Linked DNA regions of Homo sapiens. The protein of the gene in region 4 purifies or fractionates together with the protein of the main gene of each other region. This does not show direct contact. Each region holds a gene or a part of one and is shown on either strand. Other genes may lie near its edges. The genes, in order: ITPRID2, ITPR1, EVPL and BBOX1.

What was found.
Region 1: the proteins of BBOX1 (region 4) and ITPRID2 purify together in Homo sapiens (affinity purification with mass spectrometry; 3 studies listed by BioGRID and IntAct, with this or other methods). This does not show direct contact.
Region 2: the proteins of BBOX1 (region 4) and ITPR1 purify together in Homo sapiens (affinity purification with mass spectrometry; one large-scale study listed by BioGRID and IntAct). This does not show direct contact.
Region 3: the proteins of BBOX1 (region 4) and EVPL purify together in Homo sapiens (affinity purification with mass spectrometry; one large-scale study listed by BioGRID and IntAct). This does not show direct contact.

The regions. Positions count from the first base shown.
Region 1 is NC_000002.12:181,905,064-181,908,874, reverse strand, and holds part of ITPRID2 (protein ITPRID2), read right to left. Parts: intron 1-3,811.
Region 2 is NC_000003.12:4,496,109-4,499,919, forward strand, and holds part of ITPR1 (inositol 1,4,5-trisphosphate-gated calcium channel ITPR1), read left to right. Parts: intron 1-3,811. UniProt on the Homo sapiens protein: Inositol 1,4,5-trisphosphate-gated calcium channel that, upon inositol 1,4,5-trisphosphate binding, mediates calcium release from the endoplasmic reticulum (ER).
Region 3 is NC_000017.11:76,006,201-76,010,473, forward strand, and holds the end of EVPL (envoplakin), read right to left. Parts: coding exon 903-4,273; 3' UTR 645-902; downstream 1-644. UniProt on the Homo sapiens protein: Component of the cornified envelope of keratinocytes. May link the cornified envelope to desmosomes and intermediate filaments.
Region 4 is NC_000011.10:27,043,701-27,047,511, reverse strand, and holds part of BBOX1 (gamma-butyrobetaine dioxygenase), read right to left. Parts: intron 1,271-3,811; exon of another isoform or gene 1,108-1,270; intron 327-1,107; exon of another isoform or gene 200-326; intron 1-199. UniProt on the Homo sapiens protein: Catalyzes the formation of L-carnitine from gamma-butyrobetaine.

The DNA.
Region 1 (3,811 bases), on a different chromosome or scaffold from region 4:
AACCTTGAAAAAAAAAATCAAAGCGCTAATAGTTAACACATTTTAGGGAAAACTCTGGTAGTTTTTAGTTATGAAGCTATTCAAGAATAAGAAATATTCCAAAGGAATAAGAGTGAAATAACCAACATTTTTAAAAGCCCAAAGGTTAAAGATAGTATTACCCAATTTAAAATTTGCTCTAATTTGTGATTTCTTTGCTCTACATAGCTCCAGGAACCGAAGTTTATGAATCTTTTGAAAACTGAAAGCACACTACTCATGCAAAACCATCACCTGTAGATCAGATATATAAAAATAGATTCTACTATTCTTTGTTATCTTGTTAAAATTAGAATAATTCTTCAAAGCAGCAGATACATGTTCAACAGGAAAACCATTGTCTTGTATGCAAGGGAACAATGTGCGTTTTCTTTTTATATTCAATAAAATGTCTATTATTAGCTTCTATTCAGGCTCGGTCTACTTCAAGTATCTTTCTGTAAAGTAAATATCAACCAGATCAAAAAATTATAGCAGAATTCCAATGCCTCTGCATTTATGTTCTAGGAATACTGGCTCAGGCACAGCATTAATATACCAAATCTCTCACTGTCATGTTTTTTTTAAATTTAATCTATTTATTTATTTTGAGACTGGGTTATGAGACTGGGTAATTTTTGTATTTTTGGTAGAGATGGGGTTTCACCATGTTGCCCAGGCTGGGGTCTCAAACTCCTGGGCTCAAGCGATCCACCTGCCACAGCCTTCCAAGTGCTGGGATTAAAGGTGTGAGCCGCCGCACCCGGCTGCTCACCTTTAAACACAGAATTATCACATATTCTATTTCCTTAGACTTATGAAATTAATCACAAAATAACATGACTTTAATAAACACATATCATCAGCATTCTATTCTTCAAGATGCTACTCAATGGCAAAAACAAATCTACTCTCTCCTTTTACTACAAACTCCATAATTAAGTGCAAGAAAGGAGCACTTCAAAAAGCTGAGACAGTCACATTTTACTAATAAAACTAAAGTTGGGATTCTTCTTGTTTACTCAGCAAAATCAGAGTACCCACTTGCTGAAGAGAGAAACATACATGCTAGTGATAATGGGTGAATTTCTTATTTTATTATTGGTCACAATTGTGCAAAAGGCGGCAGTCAAATTTGAGATGGGGTACACCACAGAGAATTATGAAGCAAATATAGAACACAGAATTTAGATTTATGTGACAAGATTTTCCCTATTCAGTGGTTTCAAATGCTCCGTAGAATTCTGGTCATTTGCTATAAGCAGCCTTTCATAATTAACAAGAATAGCCAAATAAAACTGAATTAGAATGATGAGTAATGGGTGTTCATGATATTATTTTCTCTAATCTTCAAGTAAGTTTGAAACTTTTCATAACAAAACTGTTTCATAATATAAAAAAAAAAAAAAACCACTAAACCAAAGTGATAAAATTGCATGGTCTCAATGTTTTGGGATTCAAAGATGAAAAACAGCTTTAGAATAACCCACACATTTGGGTTACTTCATTTAAAAAAGTTTTCATGAAACAATGACTGTATCTTTCTAAATCAATGTTCTGCTAAAATGACAGGCACTCACTTTGGTTTCTTTCTCTTGTTTAAAAAATGTACTTTTTGTTTCAGTGAACCACTTTGGTTTCTTAACAGCTGTCATGTTTACCTTGACTAAGAGGGATCTTCTAGGCACAATACTACTGTATTGTATTGCACAGGACAGCAATACATGGATGTTCTAACTCAAATAACCCTTCCTCTAAAGTTTAAAAAGAGACTGTATAGCTGTCATCATTGAATAAACATTGTATATCAAAATGGTTTTCAAAGAAAATCAAAACTAGAGCTTTAGAAATTACAATTCTGTCTAATTTTTAATGACAGCTCAAAAAAATGTCAGAGGAAATCATTCTTTTTCCAAAGTAGTAGCATGGTGCTGTGCATCAGATGATTAGTTCTTGTACAATGCCTGACCATACCAACATATCTGACCTTCACCAAGTTGTATAGTATAGTCACAAGTAACGTGAATTCAAGTCTTATTCATGCCACTTACTGGCTAACGGCCTCTGACAATTATCTGCGATAAATATCCGTATTTTTTTTTTTTATTTCATTTTTTTGAAACAAGGTCTCGTTCTGTTGCCCAGGCTGGAGTGCAGTGGTGGAATCATGGCTCACTGCAGCCTCAACTGCCTGGGCTCAAGTGATTCTCCCACCTCAGCCTTTGGAGAAGTGGGACTACAGACATGCACCACCATGCACGGCTAATTTTAAAACTATTTGTAGAGACAAGTCATGCTATGTTGTCCAGGCTGGTCTCTAACTTCTGGGCTCAAGTGATCCTCCTGCCTCAGCCTCCACACAGTGCTGGGATTACAGGTGTGAATCACCATGCTCAGCCTCAAAATTAAAATTAACAGCAAAATTAAAATTAAAATTTCTACCTCATAGGTCCTTGGGGTGATCAAATGTAACTGTAAGTCAAAGTACTTTCAAACAGTAAAGTAGTAAGAATGTACAACAGGAGATCCTCCTCTGCCATCCTCCACTGACACCCGCTGTGCTCCTTCCCCCTGTGAAGCACTGATATCAAAAGGAATATTATAGCCCTCAGAAAGATGGTGAAGAACCACTGCTATAAAACAATATCAAATGAGGGAGGGGATGCTTCCTCATTTGTAAAGGGAAGAAACTAGAAAATGAATAAAGTATCTCTTTCCGTACTAGTTTATGATTCTATAAATTACTTGCAAATGTTTATCTTAAACAAATACTATCGAGTTTTACACATACACACAAAAATATCATTTATTTTTACTGTCAGGTAAATTTTCAATAAAAATTGACTAAGGTCTTTTAGGTAAATATCAAATAACAAAACAGTGGTTAATTGGGCTTTAGAGTAGCAGATATCTGTGCATGTCATATGTTAGAGTTCATATTCCAGGGCAGGCTTATCTTCAAAACATACACAGTTACATTTAAAAGGCCAAAGGAACAACTTAATTATCTGTCAAATATCTGACTGATGTGGGATTATTTTAACTCAGACCAATAAACATAGAAAAATCCTAAAACTTAACAGCTAAAAATGAGAAGTCAAGTACATTAGTTAAATCAATAATTAGTATGAAGACAGGATTAGAAACAGTTACTAACACATCAGTAGCTTAAAAAAGATTATGTGTATATCCAATAATGGTTATATTTAAATAAAAATTCATTTAAAGGTCAAGAAGACCACACAGTCAACTTCTTACAGAAATGCTGAGATAAAAGTTCTCCTTCTTAAGTTTTTCCTTTACATCTAAAAGATGAACATCTGCTTGAGAAGGATCATTTTGGTTTAACTTGTGAATCATTCACACTACTAATCTATGGCTTCAGAGAGTTACCATGACGTATTCAAAATAAGCCATTCAAGAAGAACACAAGAATTAATGAAGCAAGTCATTTGGAATAATTAGAAATTCAAGAACAGGATTTAATAACTTTTTATAAATAGTTATAGGCTGGGTGTGGTGGCTCACACCTGTAATCCCAGCATTTTGGGAGGCCGAGGTGGTCAGATCACGAGGTCAGGAGTTTGAGACCAGCCTGGCCAACGTAGTGAAACCCCATCTCTACTAAAAATACAAAAAATTAGCTGGCTGTGGTGGTATGTGCCTGTAATCCCAGCTACTCAGGAAGCTGAGGCAGGAGAATTACATGAACCCAGGAGGCAGACGTTGCAGTTAGCCAAGATTGCACCACTGCACTCCCGGGTGACAATGCGCGACTCCGTCTCAAAAAAAA
Region 2 (3,811 bases), on a different chromosome or scaffold from region 4:
CTCCTAGCTGAAATACATCTTGATTGTTTACATCAAAGAATCTGAGTAGGTTAAAAGGATCAGGCGTTTCCCCATCTGAATAATTCGAAAGTTTAAACTGCAGTTAGACTGCAATGTGAAATGTTGATACCTTTTCATATACCTTCCAGTTTGCTTTGCAGCCAGTTGTGCAGACGTTTTTGTTCTCCATTTTTTCTTTCAAGTTCATGTGTGTGTGTGTGTGTGTGTATGCATATGTACACTGAAAGTACAATCTGCTCTTTGAATAATTCAAATCAGAACAGAAAATCCTTTCAAGATATCATTCTTATCAGGCAGGGAAAGTTCTTCATGTTCTAAGTGAATTACTCTGGCTCTTGCCTTGAGACCCATGAAAGTCATTTGGGGTTGACAATGGTATCTATTTAAACCAAGTGATTGTCTTTTGGAGGGAATTGGCATCTTTTCTTTAGGAATGAGAAGTGGAATGGTTGCTTAGAAAAAAAGAGATAGATGAACTCCACAGAAAGATCAAGAGTCTTTTCTTCAAAATATTTTTAAGTGAGGAAGATCAGGGTGTTGGTATTGCGGGGAGGGAGGAGAGTGGGCAGAGAGAAAGATAAAAAAGAAACCTTTAATCCAATGGTGTGCAACCAACTGACTTCCAGAGGGGGGAATATCACATGGCTTTTCAACTCATTTATAAAGATATCATGGAAACTGTCTGATTTCTTCATGAGCAGCTCTTAGAAAACAAACAAAAATAAAACAAACACCAAATATGAACAACAGAAAAAAACAGCCAAAATAAAAGTAGGCCTGGAGTTAGGTTTCTAGGTCAAGCTGTCTTTGGCTACATCTAATTAAGGAGTCTCCACAGGGCCAGTGTCTATCTTGTTTACTATTGGTTTGATTTTTAAAAATAAAACACATTGCATTTGCAGGCTGTCTGTTAACCAGAAGTCCATGCAGTTTTTTTTTTTTCCATTTTTGCTGTTTTAAGTTTGTGCATAGCTCAATTGATGAATGCAATTAAGGCTTGAAGTCGGTGATGTGAATGACATAACTTCTATGATTCCTTACAATTCTCTTGGTTTCTGTGGTTCTGAGATGATTGCTAATGAGAATAAGCCAGATACACCACTGAAACCGTCACCCATTCAACTTTGAGATTTCTAAATTGGATGTAGTTTAAGGCACATGGTGTGGTAAATCTATTTAACAGACTCTAAGACCTGTTCAAGTTGTGTGCGATTCAAATGTTTTATTCTTTATTCAACAAATTTCTTGAGCACCTGCTATGTACTAAGATGTATTCCAGGTGCTCAGGATATAGCAATGAACAAACCATCCCGTTCCCAAGAGGCTTACATCTCAGTTGGTGGGAGGCAGCCAATATAAATAAACAAGTAAGTATTATAGTATTAGAGGTAGTAAAAGCTATGGAGAAAAAGAAAACTGGTTAAAGGGGGAACAGAAAATAACAAGTGGAGAAATTAGATCCCTTGTGCATTGCCGGTGGGAATGTAAAATGGTGAAGCTGCTGTGGAAAACAGCATGGCAGTTACTAAAAAAAATTAAACATAAAATTACTATATGTCCCAGCAATTCCACTTCAAGGTATATACTTTAAAAAATTGAAAGTAGGGACGTGAGCAGATATTTGTACACCTGTGTCAGTAGAAGCATTATCACAGTAGCCAAAAGGTAGAAACAACACAAGTCTACTGATGAATGAACAGATAAAATGTGAAATATACATACAATGGAATATTATTCAGCCTTAAAAAGGGAATTCTGACACATGCTACAATGTGGATGAACCTTGAAAACATGCTAAGTGAAACAAGCCAGAAATAAAAGGACACATATTTTATGATTTTTCTTATAGAGGCATCTAGAGTAGTCAGATCCCTGCAGACAGAAAGTAGAATGGGGATTGCTGGGGGAGATAGAAGACAGGAAGGGGGAGTTAGTGTTTATTGAGGATAGAGTTTCAGTTTGGAAAGATGAAAAAGTTCTGGAAATGGATGGTGGTGATGTCACACAACAGTGTGAATGTACTTAGTGCCACTGAGTTATAACATTTCAAAGTGGTATATTTTATGTTATGTATATTTTACAGTAATTTTAAAAAGCAACAAAACATGATGAGGGGTATTAAGGGAGTACTCAGGTGGGGATTAGATCTTTACTACATGACATCTCAGCACAGATCTGAAGGAGGCAAACGAGTTGACCCTGTAGCTGTCAGGGAAAAAGTGTGTTCCAAATGTCAGAGCAGCAAGTACAGAGGCCCTGAGATAGGAGTGTTTGTGACATGTTGGAGGAAGGAGAAGAAGGCCAGGGGAGAGTGCTAGGAGTTCAGGAGGGAGAGGGAGTCAAGGTCCAGACCTGTAGGGACCAGATTTTGCAGGTCAACAGTGGTTTATCTGAGGACTTGTAAACTCTCACGGAATTCTCAGTGTGGTTTTCAACATCACAAAACTACATTGTCCTTTCTGAAGAGACTCTGGTAAGGTTGGCAGGATCACATACCAGATGGGAACTCGATAGGGGGTAAAACCCAGATTTCTGGACTGTCTGGTTAATGACAGGACTTACCTGGAGTTGTAATTCACTTCAGTAGAAAAGGAAAGTTTGACAAATAGGTGAACGTACAGTTGACTTGGAGAGCAAATTGTAAGAACATAATGATAATCCTGGAGTTTCAACACAAACCTATGTCTTACCGCCACCCTGCGTTGTATCCAGTGTCGTTTTAAGAGATATTTACAAGGAGGACTAATATTCTGCTCTCCAGCATCCTTGAGGAATTAGAAGCTTCACATCAGTGATTCTCCTTAATAAGTGAAGTGGACCCCTGCACATGTGCAAACTTAAAGCAAACCTCAAATTTTGTTACTTATTACATAAGATATACATATTCATGTAGCACACACCTTGGACTCGGCTACTCAGGGGACGGAGGCAGGAGAATTACTTGAGCCCGGGGGTTTGAGGCTGTAATATACTATGATTGCATCTGTGATAGCTACTGTACTCCAGCAAGACCCCATCTCTGTTAAAAAAATTTTTTTAAGGAGAAAAAGATAGCATATTCATTGTAGTGCAACATTAGGAAATAAAGAGGAGCAATGAAACAAAACAAAACAATTCAACTATTAGAGATTAGGGTTTCAGGCTTTTCCTCTAAGTATGCATATGTAAAATTTACGTATATATTTAAATTTCATAAAAAGGGACTAACACAGTATCTCTCATTTGGTAAATTACCTTTTGTACATCTTGAACATCTTTTTAATAAACAGACATCTGTGTCTCATTTTTCTAAATGTGCCTACCCCTTTGATGGCCTTTCATTTTTATTGAGTCTAGGTTTATACTTCCCTGATATATATACATATATAAATAGATATTTGTAAAAAATACATAATATAATAATTTTACACATACACGTATTTAACAGTTTGAATTAGGATCCAAATAAGGTAAATACATTACAAATGGTTGATGTTCACTAATCTCTGTATTTCCTCTACAGATCTTTTTTCCATGCATTTTTTTTGTTGTTATCGAAGAAACTGGGTGATACACGTCTCCACAGTTTAGACTTTGCTGACTGCATCAGTGCAATGTGGTTTAACATGTTTCTGTATCCCCTTGGGGTACCATAATTTGGTAGTTAGATGTAGAGGCTTCATCAAAGTTAGGTTCTTTTCTTTTTTAAATTGAGAAGGGGTCTCACTATGTTGCCTCGGCTGGCCTTGGACTCCTGGTCTCAAGCAGTCTTCCTGTGCCAGCCTTCCCAGTAGCTGGGACTCCAGTAAGT
Region 3 (4,273 bases), on a different chromosome or scaffold from region 4:
AGAGTGCAGTGACATAATCTCAGCTCACTGCAACCTCTGCCTCATGGGTTCAAGCAGTTCTCCTGCCTCAGTCTCCCGAGTAGCTGGGATTACAGGCATATGCCACCAAGCCCCCATTTTTTTTTTTTTTTTTGAGATGGAGTCTCGCTGTCTCAGGTCTACCCTGTTGCCCAGGGTAGAGTGCAGTGGCATGATCTCTGCTCACTGGAACGTCCGCCTCCCAGGTTCAAGTGATTCTCCTGCCTCAGCCTCCTGAGTAGCGGGAATTTTAGGTGTGCACCACCACACCCAGCTAATTTTTGTATTTTTAGTAGAGTCGGGGTTTCACCGTGTTCGTCAGGCTGGTCTCGAACTCCTGACCTCGGATCCACCCGCCTTGGCCCCCCTAAATGCTGGTATTACAGGTGTGAGCCACTGTGCCCGGCCTCCTTTAGTGATTTTAAACCATAATCTCTTTCCATGACCTGCCACTGCATCCCTGCCCCGCACTCAAGGAGGCACAGCCCTCCGAGGATGCCTGTTTCCCAGGCAGGCAAATTGAGCACGTCCGCCCAGGCAAGGACTTGAGCAACGCTGTCCTTGCACTCATCCCCCAGACACATGGGTCCTGCACTCTCAAATGTGAATGAATGGGACACCACATGGCACGGGGAGACAGAATTCGTTTATTGGGATCACTGGGTGGAGGTGGAGGAAGAACTGAGTGGCTGCTGTCCTGGTCTGGGGATGGATCAGGCACCAAGGTTAGGGGAGGGAGCCCATCACCATGTTAGTAAAATAATAAAACAGTGGTTGGACAGAGGGAAGACCCACTGCCTGGGATGAGGCTGCTCTGAGGCAAGAGGTGTACGTATCCTACCTGGCCCAACACACGCACTTCCCCACTGGCTCCTTGGCCCGTGTCAGCGAAGGGAGCGCGGGACGGTGGGGGAGGCGGAGCGGTAGCAGCGGTACCCCTCCAGTGCCGCTGGCAGGAGCAGCAGGCCGCTCAGGGGGTCTTTGCGGCAGCGGCCCATGGCCTCCTTGTAGCTCAGCCGTTCCTTGGAGATGGGGTCTGTCAAATCCTTCTCGTAGCTGGACTCGTCCTGCAGGAGCTGGGCCAGCTCTTCACTGATCATCCCGGAGAGGAGGGCCTGCTGGATGGGGATGCGGCCTGTCCTCTTGGGGTCGATGAGCCCCCCGGTCAGGTGCTGCACCTGCAGGTGTGGGAGCACGCTCTCCCGGGGCATCCAGCCCTTCTGGACGGCCTCGCCCACCGAGAGCCTCTTCTTGGTGACGGGGTCCTCGATGCCGGTGAAGGCCTTCTGGGCGTTAAGCAGCCTCTGTGTGGAGGTGTTCTCGATCAGGCCCCTCTCCATCGCCTTGTGCACAGAGTAGCGCTCACGGCTGAGCAGGTCCACGATGCCCCCTGTGGCCGCCTGGGCCTCCAGTAGCTTCTGCCCAGTGATGGGGTCCAGCATGTTCTTGGCCACGGCCGTCTTGATGCTGCACTTGTTGTCTGTGGTTGTGTCATAGATCCCGGCGATAGGGAAGCTGTCATCACCGAGCCCGAGAGAGAAGCTGGGAGAGAAGAAACTGGTGCTCTGGGGGGCCGGGGAGGCGAGCGGGGACTTGGAGATGATAGAGCCGATGGAGAGTGAGGAGCTTGGCTTGGTCTCCCCAGCTACAAGCAGCGCAAACTCGGAGATGGGCAGGTGGCCGTCCTTGTACAGATGGTACTCCTCCTTAGAGATGCGCCGGCAGCGGAGGGCGGCCTCGATGGAGTACTGCTTCCCGCTCTTGCGGTCCAGGAGCACAGACTCCTCCCCACAGGGCCCCGAGGTGGTGACCTCCTCCCAGTCACACTCGAGCTCCTGCAGCTGCAAGTACTGGCCCCTGTCGATGATGCCCCTCTTGTAGGCCTCGTATGGGGACATGTCCTTCCCCGTCTCGGGTTCCAGGATGGAGATCTTGGTGGAAAGGTTGGTCTCTCGCGTCTGGGTCTCCTGGCTGAGCTCCTCCCGGCTCACCTTGGCGTGGAGGTCCCGGAGCGTCCGCTCCTTCTCGTAGATCTGGTCCTTCTCGCGGAGGATGGCCGCCTCCAGCCGCGAGAGCTCCTGGCCCCGCTGGGCCGCCTTCTGTCGCTCGCTCTCCGTCTTCTGGCTGAGCAGCTTCGACTCCTCCTGCAGCTGCAGTGTCTGCTGCTGCTTCTGCCTCTCCAGAGCCCGCAGCTCCTGCTGCAGCCGCCCACACTCCTGGTCGGCCTGGTCCCGGGCCCTCTGCAGCTCGGACTCCTCCCGGGACCAGGTTCTCCCCAGCGTCTCGGCCCGGTCAATGCGCTCCCGCAGGCGCCGTGCCTCCTCCTCCCGGGCCTGCCGGGCCGTGCGCTCCCTGTTGAGCATCTCCCACACGCGGGCCCGCTCATCTTCCAGGACGCGGTCCTTCTGCACCCGGATCACTTCCTTGTAGATGGTCTTCTCCTGCGATTTGGCTTTCTGGAGGACGTCAATCTGGACCTGCAGGTTCTTGCACTCCCGATTCAGCTCGGTTACCTGGGTCTTCTCCTGGTCCAGGTCCCACCGCAGGGCTTCCGTGGACTTCTCCAGGTCCGGGTCCTTCTCCAGCTTGACCACTTCCTCCATGATGATCTTCTCCTGCACCGTGGGAGGCCGCTTCTCGAGCTCCTGGATCCTCAAGGTCAGCTGCCGCAGCTCCCTCTCCACGGCCAGCTTCTTGCTGCGGTCCTCCTGGAAGCTGAGCAGGCCCTCCTGCTCCTCCACGCCGGCCCGCAGCTGCTGCACCTCAAGCTCTAGCTGGCGCCGCCGGCCCACCTCCTCATCCAGGCTCCCGCTCAGCCGGCTGTGCTCCTCGCGCAGCTTCGGGTCCTTCTGGGTGACCACCACCTCCTGCACCACCACCTTCTCCTCGGGCTTCCTCCTCTCCAGCAGCAGGCGCTTGCTCTGCAGCTCGTACACCGCGTCCTCCGCGGCCCGCCTCTTCTGGGCCGCCTCCCGCACCTCCTGGCGGAGCCGCTCTGCTTCTTTCTCCAGCACCGGGTCCTTCTCGTGGCGCACCACCTCCTTGCTCACCGTCTTGGTCTCCACCTTGGCCCGCTCGCGCCTCCACTCGTCGCGCTCACCCTGCAGGCGGATGAGCTGCTCCTGGGAGCGCCCGTGGCTGTTGACGAGCTCGTTGAGCTGAGCCTTCAGGCGGTCGATCTCACGCAGCACCTCGGGGCTCCTCTCATGCCTCACCACCTCCTGGGTCACCTCCTTGTACTCCACCGTGGGCTTCTGGGCCCGCAGGACCTCCAGGTCGGGCAGCAGCTTCTCCACCTCCTTCTCCACACCGCTCCTCTTGCCCGCCATCTCCTGCAGCTTGGCCTTGAGCCGAGTGATCTCCTGCTCTGTCTCCGGATCCACCTGGAAGATCTCGTGGACGCGCTCCTGGAGCTGCACTTTGGGCCTCTGCTTCTCCACCACGCTGTACTTGCTGTGCAGGTCGCTCAGCTCCCTGGCCAGCGTCGCGTTCTTGGTCCTCTCCTCCTCGAGGAGGCTCCTCAGCCTGGAGGACTCCTGGAGGAGCCCTGGGTCCTGCTCCACCTTCTTCACCTCCTTCACGATGACCTTGGGCTCCACCGAGCTGATAGCCCGCTCCAGGTCTTCGATGCGAGCCTGTAGCTTGGCCACAGCCTCCTCCGCCTGCTTCCTCCGCGCAGCATCCTCCTCCATCTGCAGCCTCAGAGCCTGGGCTGCCTTGACCATTTCCAGATTCTTCTCCACCTTGACTACCTCTTTCACCACGACCTTCTCCTTCACGTCCACCTCCCTCTTCTCAAGGGCCAGTAGCTCCTTCTTCAGCCCTTCCAGCCGGGCCGAGATGACGGCATCCTCCCCGCGGAGCTGCTGGATCTGGATCCTGAGCTGGGCCGCCTGGCTGTCCAGGCCGGGGTCCCTCTCCACCTGGGTGACCTCCTTGGTCAGCAGATGAGGCTGCATGGTCTTCCTCTTGCTTTCCAGCTGCACGACCTTCTGGGCTGCCACTTCCAGGTCTGCCTGCAGGCCAGCCCGCCGCTTGCCCTCCTCCTCCACCTGGGCCTTCACCCTGGACAGGCTGCCCTCCAGCTGGGGGTCCCGGTAGAACTCTACCACTTCCTTCTCCTCCAGCCTCTCCAAGGGCCGCTGGGTCCTCAGCTGCAGCAGTTGGCTCCTCTGCGCCTCCAGCTCATGCTGCACCCGGGCCACCCGCTTCCTCTCCTCTTCCAGCTGGGCCTTCAGGGCCTCTGACTCTCTCC
Region 4 (3,811 bases):
TAATGAATACCCAGTCCAGGGGTGCATTTTCTACCATGAGGAACATGGTTCCTCTGCTTAAAGATGGTGGTGTGCCCATGTCACACCAACTATTGAAGTGATCACTCCTATAGACATCTGTGCCAAGAAACATTAATTACATTTCAGACTGCTGTTTTGAGCTTTCTATCTGTTTTTTTCTTTTTCTTCTTCTACCTAGGTTTGAATGAGAGAGGCAGAAGCACATTTCCAATCACTGGGGGAACCTGAGACCATTCTTTCCAACCCATTTTGCCAAATGGATGTCCTGAGGAAGGTGTTCCAAGAGAGGCGATGTCAGGATAGTGTCTGATTGGAGGGTGCCCAAGGCACATGGGAGAATGTGGAAGAACTGGAAAGACTTGGGTGTTGCTGATGTTAAATTACTTAGGTATCTCTGTAGAAACTTAGTGGGTCATTCCTTCTCTTCACAATCCCTTTCTTAAATTTATGATAAACGTGAAAGGTAATCAAAACAAAAGCAGGGCAAAATGGGAAAATAAGTTCCCACTTTAACTTTTTCTGGATTATTTAAAGGTCTACTGGGGCAAATGTGATGAAAATTAAAAAAAAAATTGCAGATCATCAGTGTTTAAAAGCAAATGCTTTCTGAAAATTATAGCTTGTATGTTAACATGATTTGTTGAAATCTGTTTTTGTAATTTAACCAACTTGACTTGTTAGAATTGAGCTCAGTTGAAGCACCATAGCAATTTAGTTAGATGATAAGCTACTCTGTTTCTCTGAAGAAAAGAAAAATTTAGATATAGCTCCTATATATAGCTCCTAGCTATATAGGATGAATTTTTATCAGTGGGATGTCTTTGACAAATTAAAGAACACCTATAAAACAAAAATTCTTATTTTACACTTATTTTTCTTCTTACAATTGTAATTTAGTTTATGAAATATCAGATTGGTTTTGGTGGGAAACAGTAGTTTCACCTGTTCTGAAAAACAGCCTTTGGATTTTTGGCATATTCTTATCTGATGGGATAGGTTTCTTTTACTTCATATTAATACATGTGTGTAGTGTGTGTGTGTGTGTGTGTGTCTGTGGTGTGTTTCCCTCCTAATTTATTCACCTACCATATTTTTTCTCTTCAGAGTAATAGAAGTTTGTCTGGGACTTCTGTTGGGCACAAGTAAATTGCTTGTTTTTGAAATTACTTCAGTGATGGGTGTGGGTTTTCTCCTTTTTTTTCTTTTTCTTAATATTACAAATTCAAGTTTGTCTCCTGATTCTTCAGCACTGTTTGGAAAATCAAGAAAGTAGCTCTGAAATTTATTTTATGCATTGATCTTGGAAATAAAAGTAACTTAGAGCTAGAGCTTTTAGAGCCAGAAAGAAACAGCCTGTGCTATTGTTGGGTCACAGGGCCCTCATCAGACATGCAGGGAAAATGGAAGCTCAGAAATGTTGGGTGTGATTTGTCCAGGCTCACACTGCTCATTAGTGAGAAAGGTTGCCCCAAACCTGGATTTGCCAGCTAAGTTTATATGTATTAAGTGATACTCTTCAAGTTCTCATAAAAGAAATTGCAAAAGTTCTTCAAACATTACTTACAACTAATTTCAATCATAGGCTTTGGAGGGAATTCACAGGAAGCAGATGCAGAAACTTTATAGTTATTATACATAAAATTAAAATTGTAGTAGATTAATATGTACCTGAGAAGGCTGATTTATCTACTAAATTACTTATCCCTCAGAATAAAAGGCTGTTATTTCTTGAGTGTTTTTAGTAAATGGAAAACAAGACCAGCATAGACCTATGTTAGCAAACGTCAGTATCTGTTAATTTTCATCTCTTTCTCAGGAGAAGTATGATGCTTCGATAAAATTCAACAGCCCTTCATGCTAAAAACTCTCAATAAACTAGGTATTGAAGGAATATATATCAAAATAATAAGAGTTACTTATGACAAACCCACAGCCAATATCATACTGAATGGGCAAAAACTGGAAACATTCTCTTTGAAAACTGGCACAAGACAAGGATGCCCTCTGACACAACTACTATTCAACATAGTATTGGAAGTTCTGGCCAGGGTGATCAGTCAAGAGAAAGAAATAAAGCGTATTCAATTAGGAAAAGAAGAAGTCAAATTGTCTTTGTTTGCAGATGACATGAATTGTACATTTAGAAAACCCCATCTTCTCAGCCCAAAATCTCCTTAAGCTGATAAGCAACTTCAGCAAAGTCTCGGGATACAAAATCAATGTGCAAAAATCACAAGCATTCCTATACACCAATAACAGACAAACAGAGAGCCAAATCATGAGTGAACTCCCATTCACAATTGCTTCAAAGAGAATAAAATATCTAGGAATCCAAGTTAGAAGGGATGTGAAGGACCTTTTCAAGGAGAACTACAAACCATTGCTCAAGGAAATAAGAGAGGACACAAACAATGGAAAAACATTCCATGCTTATAGATAGGAAGAATCAATATCGTGAAAATGGCCATACTGCCCAAGGTAATTTATAGATTCAATGCTATCCCCATCAAGCTATAATTGACTTTCTTCACAGAATTGGAAAAAACTACTTTAAAGTTCATGTGGAACCAAAAAAGAGCCCACATAGCCAAGACAATCCTAAGCAAAAAGACAAAGCTGGAGGCATCATGCTACCTGACTTCAGACTATACTACAAGGCCACAGTAACCAAAACAGCATGGTACTGGTGCAAAAACAGATAGACCAATGGAACAAAACAGAGGCCTCAGAAATAATGCCATACATCTATAACCATCTGATCTTTGACAAACCTGACAAAAACAAGCAATGGGGAAAGGATTTCCTATTTAATAAATGGTGTTGGGAAAACTGGCTAGCCATATGTAGAAAGCTGAAACTGGATCCATTCCTTACACCTTATCCAAAAATTAACTAAAGATGGATTAAAGACTTAAACGCAAGACCTAAAACCATAAAAACCCTAGAAGAAAACCTAGGCAATATCATTCAGGACATAAGCATGGGCAAAGACTTCATGACTAAAACACCAAAAGCAAGGGCAACAAAAGCCCAAATTGACAAACTGGATCTAATTAAACTAAAGAGCTTCTGCACAGCAGAACTATCATCAGAGTGAATAGACAACCTACCGAATGGGAGAAAATTTTTGCAATCTATCCATCTGACAAAGGTCTAATATCCAGAATCTACAAAGAACTTCAACAAATTTACAAGAAAAAAAAACCCATCAAAAATGGGCAAAAGATATGAACAGACACTTCTCAAAAGAAGACATTTATGCAGCCAACAAACATATGAAGAAAAGCTCATCGTCACTAGTCATTAGACAAATGCAAATCAAAACCACAATGAGATACCATCTCATGTCAGTTAGAATGGTGATCATTAAAAAGTCAGGAAACAACAGATGCTAGAGAGGATGTGGAGAAATAGGAACACTTTTACACTGTTGGTGGGAATATAAAGTAGTTCAAACATTGTGGAAGACAGTGTGGCAATTCCTCAAGGATCTAGAACCAGGAATACCATTTGACCCAGCAATCCCATTACTGCGTATACACCCAAAGGATTATAAATCATTCTACTATAAAGACACGTGCACATGTATGTTTATTACAGCACTGTTCACAATGGCAAAGACTTGGAACCAACTCAAATGCTCATCAATGATAGACTGGATAAAGAAAATGTGGCATATATACACCATGGAATACTATGCAGCCATAAAAAAGGATGAGTTCATGTCCTCCGCAGGGACATGGAGGAAGCTGGAAGCCATCATTCTCAGCAAACTATCACAAGAACAGAA